2 linked regions of the Homo sapiens genome follow. The protein of the gene in region 1 purifies or fractionates together with the protein of each later gene. This does not show direct contact. Each region holds a gene or a part of one and is shown in the gene's direction. Other genes may lie near its edges.

Evidence for each region. The genes of interacting proteins can lie anywhere in the genome.
Region 2: the proteins of NID1 (region 1) and NXPH3 purify together in Homo sapiens (co-immunoprecipitation; one large-scale study listed by IntAct). This does not show direct contact.

Annotation. Positions count from the first base shown.
Region 1 is NC_000001.11:236,040,952-236,044,823, reverse strand, and holds part of NID1 (nidogen-1 precursor), read left to right. Parts: intron 1-2,531; coding exon 2,532-2,914; intron 2,915-3,872. UniProt on the Homo sapiens protein: Sulfated glycoprotein widely distributed in basement membranes and tightly associated with laminin. Also binds to collagen IV and perlecan. It probably has a role in cell-extracellular matrix interactions.
Region 2 is NC_000017.11:49,581,599-49,584,327, forward strand, and holds the end of NXPH3 (neurexophilin-3 precursor), read left to right. Parts: 3' UTR 1-2,229; downstream 2,230-2,729. UniProt on the Homo sapiens protein: May be signaling molecules that resemble neuropeptides. Ligand for alpha-neurexins.

The DNA of each region.
Region 1 (3,872 bases):
TTCCTTCACATTGACTAGGGGGAATATTCTTACAACAGAAATGGTGCTCTCAGGTTATGTTGTAGAATTTGACAAAAGAGGGAAAAGCCCAAATTGGATTTTGAAGATTAAAACCTTTCCTCTCCCATTATTCTTTAAAAACCAAGAGTGAATCCCCTAAAACCACCTTTTAATTTTATATCTTCAAATCTAGCTTGAATTCCTCTGCCCTTCACTTAGTGATGTGCTGGTAAATGCTTAACAACTGGTTTTATGAGGGCAGAGGAACCTGATTTATAGCGTTTGCCTGTTTCTGTGATGTAAATACTCCTACGATGGCCAAGTTCAAGTTATTAACGTCATGTCACTCATTGAAGAGTTCAGAAAACATGCACCATTATATATATTCTCACCATAAAGATAAAATAGGTTTAATATATATAATTTCAAGAGCATGGACAGTAGCAAAAGGATTAGAATATGATGAGTTTTGAATATTTTTTCCTTTTAAAAAATATAACTTGTTTAATTGGAAGTTCATGTAATTTAATTGTTTAGAATGGCTGTGTTTAATAACTGGCTTGCAAAATTCCTAAAACTTTAACAGCCAGCTCTCACAAGCTAGTCCATATAAGCTCCCACACACCACTGTCTTTACTTGAATCCCAGGCAGACAAATTGATTAGACATCCTATTTATGCAGGACTTTTGTGATTTATCATCCCCACCCCACCCCATTGTTTTGCTCAGTATTTTCCACTGAGTAATGTATGTCCCCTCTGTCCACCGTATAATATAATTATTTCATGTAATTTCTGATAGGAGCACTTCCAATCACAGACACAGAAGAATGGTAAAAATGGTGGAGGAAGAAGTAGAGATTAGGGATATTCTACTATATTTTATAGTTATAAAATGCTTTTGGATTTTGTATCTCATTTGCTTTTCACCATATCCTTTAAGCACCAAAGGTAAACTGAGACTAGTCCAAGATCTCACAGCCAATGGAGTTGGGATTTCTTTTTTTGTTGTTTTTGTTGTTGTTTTGAGATGGAGTCTTGCTCTGTCGCCCAGGCTGGAGTGCAGTGGCACGATCTTGGCTCACTGCAAGCTCTGCCTCCCGGGTTCACGCCATTCTCCTGCTTCAGCGTCCCGAGCAGCTGGGACTACAGGCGCCCACCACCACGCCCAGCTAATTTTTTGTATTTTTAGTAGAGACGGGGTTTCACCATGTTAGCCAGGATGGTCTCGATCTCCTGACCTCATGATCTGCCCTCCTCAGCCCCCCAAAGTGCTGGGATTACAGGTGTGAGCCACCGCGCCCGGCCCTGGAGTTGGGATTTCTAAAAAACCACGTCTGCAATGTTTTCACTCACACTTCTGACACCAAATGGGTGGGGTTTTTTTTCCCACACCAACCAATTCTCTGCACACCAGCCGGGTGTCCTACACTTCAGTTCAATTCTAGCACTGGCGTTACTGCAGACCCCACAGGTTAAGGGCTCAGTCCCACAGGACTGCCCCCACTTCAGATGCCAGTCCCAAGTCCTGTGTTTCCACCTGTACTTCTGACCAACCAGCTATAAATGGAGGGTTTCCATGGCATGCTCCTCAGATTTGATAATTTGCTAGAATGGCTCACATAACACAGAAAAATGCTTCACTATTACCAGTTCATTCTAAAGGATACAACTCTGGAACAACCAAATGGAAGAGAGGCATAGGACAAGGTATGGGTAAGGGGGCAGGGTTTCTATGCCGTCTCTGAGTACACCAGCCTTCCCGCACCTTGATGTGTTCAACCCAGAAGCTCTCTGAACCCCATCATTTTAGGGTTTTTATGGTGGTGTTATTTCATAGGCACAGTTGATTAAATCACTGATCCTTGGTGATTGACTCAATCTCCAGCCCATCTCCCCTCCCTGGAGGCAGTGGGGAAAGCTGGACATTCCAACCTTCTAATCATGCCTTGGTCTTTCTGGCCACCAGCCCCCATCCTGAAACTGTCTAGGAGCTCCCAGCCATCAGTCAACTCATTAGCCTACAAAAGACACTCTTATCACTTCAGAAATTCCAAAGGCTGTAGGAGCTCTTGTTTCAGAATGTGAGGACAGAGACCAAACATGTATTTTCAATTGTATCATACCATGTCATGGAAAGAGATAGTGGAGAGCATGAATGACTTCAGTCCTAAAGCCACTGTCAGTCCTATGAGCCACCTTAGCTCATAAGGTAGAGCATGTAACCAGCAATTAGGATGAGCAAGTTGAATTTTAAGTCCTGATAGTGTCCCTGGAGCACACTTCTGGAATGGCTGGGACTGAGCTTGTGCTAGTATTGTGCCCATTTGGACACAGTCTCACCAGACAGCCCTAGACTGCCTCAGCCACATGACGCCCAGACATGACGGCCAGTGCCCTTCCACTCTCCAGTCCTAGCTGCAGGTGATGGCTTGCAGACCAACACAGATCCTCAGGGCTCCCTCTGCTTGGGTAGTGGTGGCTGTTGGTGGGTTGCTGGCCTGTTTCTAAGAAGCCTGTCCTTCCTCCTAGGAGTAGTAACTCTGGGCAGCAGGGTGTCTGGGTGTTTGAGATTGGGAGTCCAGCCACCACCAATGGCGTGGTGCCTGCAGACGTGATCCTCGGAACTGAAGATGGGGCAGAGTATGATGATGAGGATGAAGATTATGACCTGGCGACCACTCGTCTGGGCCTGGAGGATGTGGGCACCACGCCCTTCTCCTACAAGGCTCTGAGAAGGGGAGGTGCTGACACATACAGTGTGCCCAGCGTCCTCTCCCCGCGCCGGGCAGCTACCGAAAGGCCCCTTGGACCTCCCACAGAGAGAACCAGGTCTTTCCAGTTGGCAGTGGAGACTTTTCACCAGCAGCACCCTCAGGTCATAGATGTGGATGAAGTTGAGGAAACAGGAGTTGGTAAGACCATTTAAGTTGCAGTTGGTAACGATCTTGGATGTGTGGGCTTCCAGACAGGCGTACTGCTGGGGAGATGTCAGTTGTGAGCATTACATGGTGGTTTGTAAAGATAAGAGCTTGGGAAAGTAGAGGCTGAACTCTCACAGCCGTGGAGCCTTGGTGTTATATGCCCAGTGGCTTCAGAGATGCTCAGTGATCTTTTGGGATTAGGACCATGGTTTTGGAGACTGTTGAGTGTGTCTTCTTTCAAGTTTCCTAGTATTCCGTTCTGTCTGTTTTAAAGAGAAAACGTCCGTTAGAATTGTTTTGAAAGTCAGATTTTCTTGTGATTTCTCAGATCAGAAATGTATTCATCCACCTGAAAAAACATTTTAGAAGTTCTTTTGGCTGTCTATGAAGCTTATCTTTGACATTTATTTCCTCTTGGTTTTGGAATTAGAATTGTTGATTATTTTTCTTCCCAGGTCCCGTCAGTTTCAGAGTTGGTTTGTGAAGATTAAAAAATATATATATATCAAAGTAGATACTCTTTAAAAAAAAATAGGGTCGGGGGTGGTGGCTCACACCTGTAATCCCAGCACTTTGGGAGGCCGAGGCAGGTGGATCACAAGCTCAAGAGATTGAGACCATCCTGGCCAACATGGTGAAACCCCATCTCTACTAAAAATACAAAAATTAGCTGGGCGTGGTGACACACGCCTGTAGTCCTAGCTACTTGGGAGGCTGAGGCAGGAGGATTGCTTGAACCTGGGAGGCAGAGGTTGCAGTGAGCCGAGATCATGCCACTGCACTCCAGCCTGGCAACAGAGTGAGTCTCTGCCTCGAAAAGAAAAAAAAAGTTTTACAGTACATTTTCTGGTCAACTATGTTATATCAGATTTTTGCTACATTTTGAGGGAAAATAGAACTCCTGGATGCTTTCATTTTTCTTATAAAAGATGTTCTAGCCAGGCACAGT
Region 2 (2,729 bases), on another chromosome or scaffold:
ACCCCTCCTCCAGACCACCCTCCGCTCCCCACCCTGGAGGCTTGAGACTGCTGGCACTGGAGCAGCCCACCAATGGACACCCACCGTGTGCCGTTCAGCCTCCCACAGTGCTGTGGAGACTGCAGGAAGGAGGAGGAAGCAATGGGGCCAGAGGCCCTGGGCGCCCTCCCCACCTCCCCTGGCTGAACTCTCAGCAGGCACTGGGGGCACTTTGACCCCCCTCCTGCTCCTCTCCTCCTGTGGAGAGCCAGATGCTGGCGACAGCTGGAGGGCCCGGCCTTCCTGGCACACAGTTCTGCCTGCACCAGGGATGGATTCATTTTAATAACTTCATTTCACCCTCATGCACACTGCCGCCTCATCCCTCCTTTCCACCTTCCCCAGTAGCCTGGCTGCTCTCCTCAGCTAGGACTTCGCTAACAGATTTCCTCCCAAACCTTAATTCTTTGGAATAGCCCTCTGGTCCCTACTGTTCTTGCCAGATACTTCTGTGCCCGCTTGGTCCTCACAAGGGCAAGGGGTCCATCCAACTTCCTCTGGCTAAGAAGACGTCACCTCTGCCCCATTGGCGAGCAGTGTCCCCATGGTGATGCCCCCCCACCATCACGACGAAGTGCGCTGGCCTCCCACTCTTGCCATGCACACACTCACAGGAGATTCCTCTGAAGAAACCTGTCCCCACTCTGCCCAGACCCCAAAGGGCCAGGTCCTACTCACACTCCAACCCGTTGACCTTCCCCATCCACTGCCCTTCAAGGCAGTCTGAAATGCCCTCAGACCGTTTAGCGGTCCCGTGGTCCTCCACCCTAACCCCTCAGCCCAGCTGGGGGCTGCCGGGGGCCTTGTCTCCTCCATCAGTGGAGCCTCTGGGACAAGTTTACCAGGCTGGGGGTTCTTTAAGGACACAGCTTGGATCTCCCCATCAGGCTGGGGAACACCTAGGGCCGGGGGCCATGCCTCCCTCATCAGACTGAGGACACCCTGATGTCAGGGGCTGGATGGCCCCTTAGACTGGGGGTCCCTGAGGGCAGAAGCTATGCCTCCCCTCATCAGACTGGAGTCTCCCTGAGGGCAAGAACTGTGCTATGGATGGGAGGGGGACAGCTTGCCTTTTCCTAGGCATCAGAGCACCTGGAGGCTGCCTCTGCCCTTCAGCTTTGCTCAAAGGCGCTGTCTGGGTCTCAGCATTCCTTTCTCAAGTAGGGTGAATCTCCTAGCACTCTGTGAAGCTAATAAGGGGGATTACCCGTTAGGTCAACTGGTAGCAATGCCCGAGTCTCCTTCTCGATGAAGCTTAAGGCAAAAGCAAATGAATATCTAGGTCCCTTCCCCCCCTTCCCCCCTTCCCTTTCCTGGGATGAGCAAGCGGGAACTGAGTCACCCTGTTCCCCATCCTTGGCAGGAATGCTGGTGACCTTGCATTGTGGCAGATTCAGGTGGCGAGGCCCATTGCTCGAGATGCACCTGGTGGGTGGGTGGCAGGGATCCTGGGGGAGTGTTTATGGGGACGGAGGCAGCTGAAGGGCAGGGAGGGGTGACCAGGTGCTGGGATCATCGAGTGAGTATGTGCAGGAGGGATTGTAGAGACACAATGAAACAGTTGCTCTGTGTTGGGAAGTGATCCAGTGTCATCGCTGGGAGTGGGAGACAGAAATGTTACTTCCAAAGATTCCGAGTCCTGTGGTACTGCCAGGAGAACCGGGGGCTGGGGTGATGGGTAAGGAGAGGCACCATTAGCCCCGCCAGGCAGAGGCAAGATGGGGTGGGGGCGGCACCTGCCAATTATGCCAAAGTCTTGGAGTGGCAGCTGGCACCATCACCAAGGCACAAATGCCAGCAGAGACCTGGCACTCACCTGGGTTGTGATTCCATAGGGCCCCTGTCTCCTGTTGGTCTCCCAGGCTCAAAGGCTGACCTGATAATTCAAGTGAAGGATGCCTAGTTCAAGGCCTCCCAGTTCCTCATCCCAGGCCACCTGGTCAGGTGGTCCCAAGGGACAAGCTAGGTCCTCCTGAACTGCAGAGGCTGCCAATAAACTGGCAACACAGGTGTTGCAGGAAGATATAGCTGGGTCCTCATCCTGGGTCTGTAATTTATTAGACGTGTGGCTTTGGACAAATGACATAATTTCCCAGAGCCTCCTTAGATAAAAAACTAGGGCTTTGCTTACCTTGGCGTATTGTTAGGAAAATTAAATGAGTTGCTCAATAAATGTTACTTCCTCCTGTCTTTTTTTTTCTAAGATGGGTTGTTGTTAACCTTGGCCTTGCTCCTGGTGTGGACAGGGGAAAGGGTCCCAGGCTGGAGGTAGGAGACCTAGGTTCCTATCCTGGTTCCACCCCATCATGCATGTGGCAAAGATTTCTAATTGTCCCATAATACCCATTTTCCCTTTCTCCATAGTAATGGGATTCTCTGATTTTAGCTGGGCATGTGGCTGCCTGAAATAACTACTGCATTTCTCAGCCTCCCTAGATGTAGTCATGTGACTAAGATCTGGCCAGTGACATTTAAGCCAAAGGTTTAGGTGGCACCTTCCAGAAATTGTCAGACAGCTGATGTGCACTCTTCGTCCCTTTGTTCCACCCTCTATCCTGCAGCCTGGAATAGGTACGAGACTGCTGCCATCTTAGACCGGCGGTAAGAGCCACACCCTAGAGGTGGCAGAGCAGTGAGTTGGAAGAAGTCTTGGTCCCTGGGAATGTTGTGGAATAGAAATACCATACCAG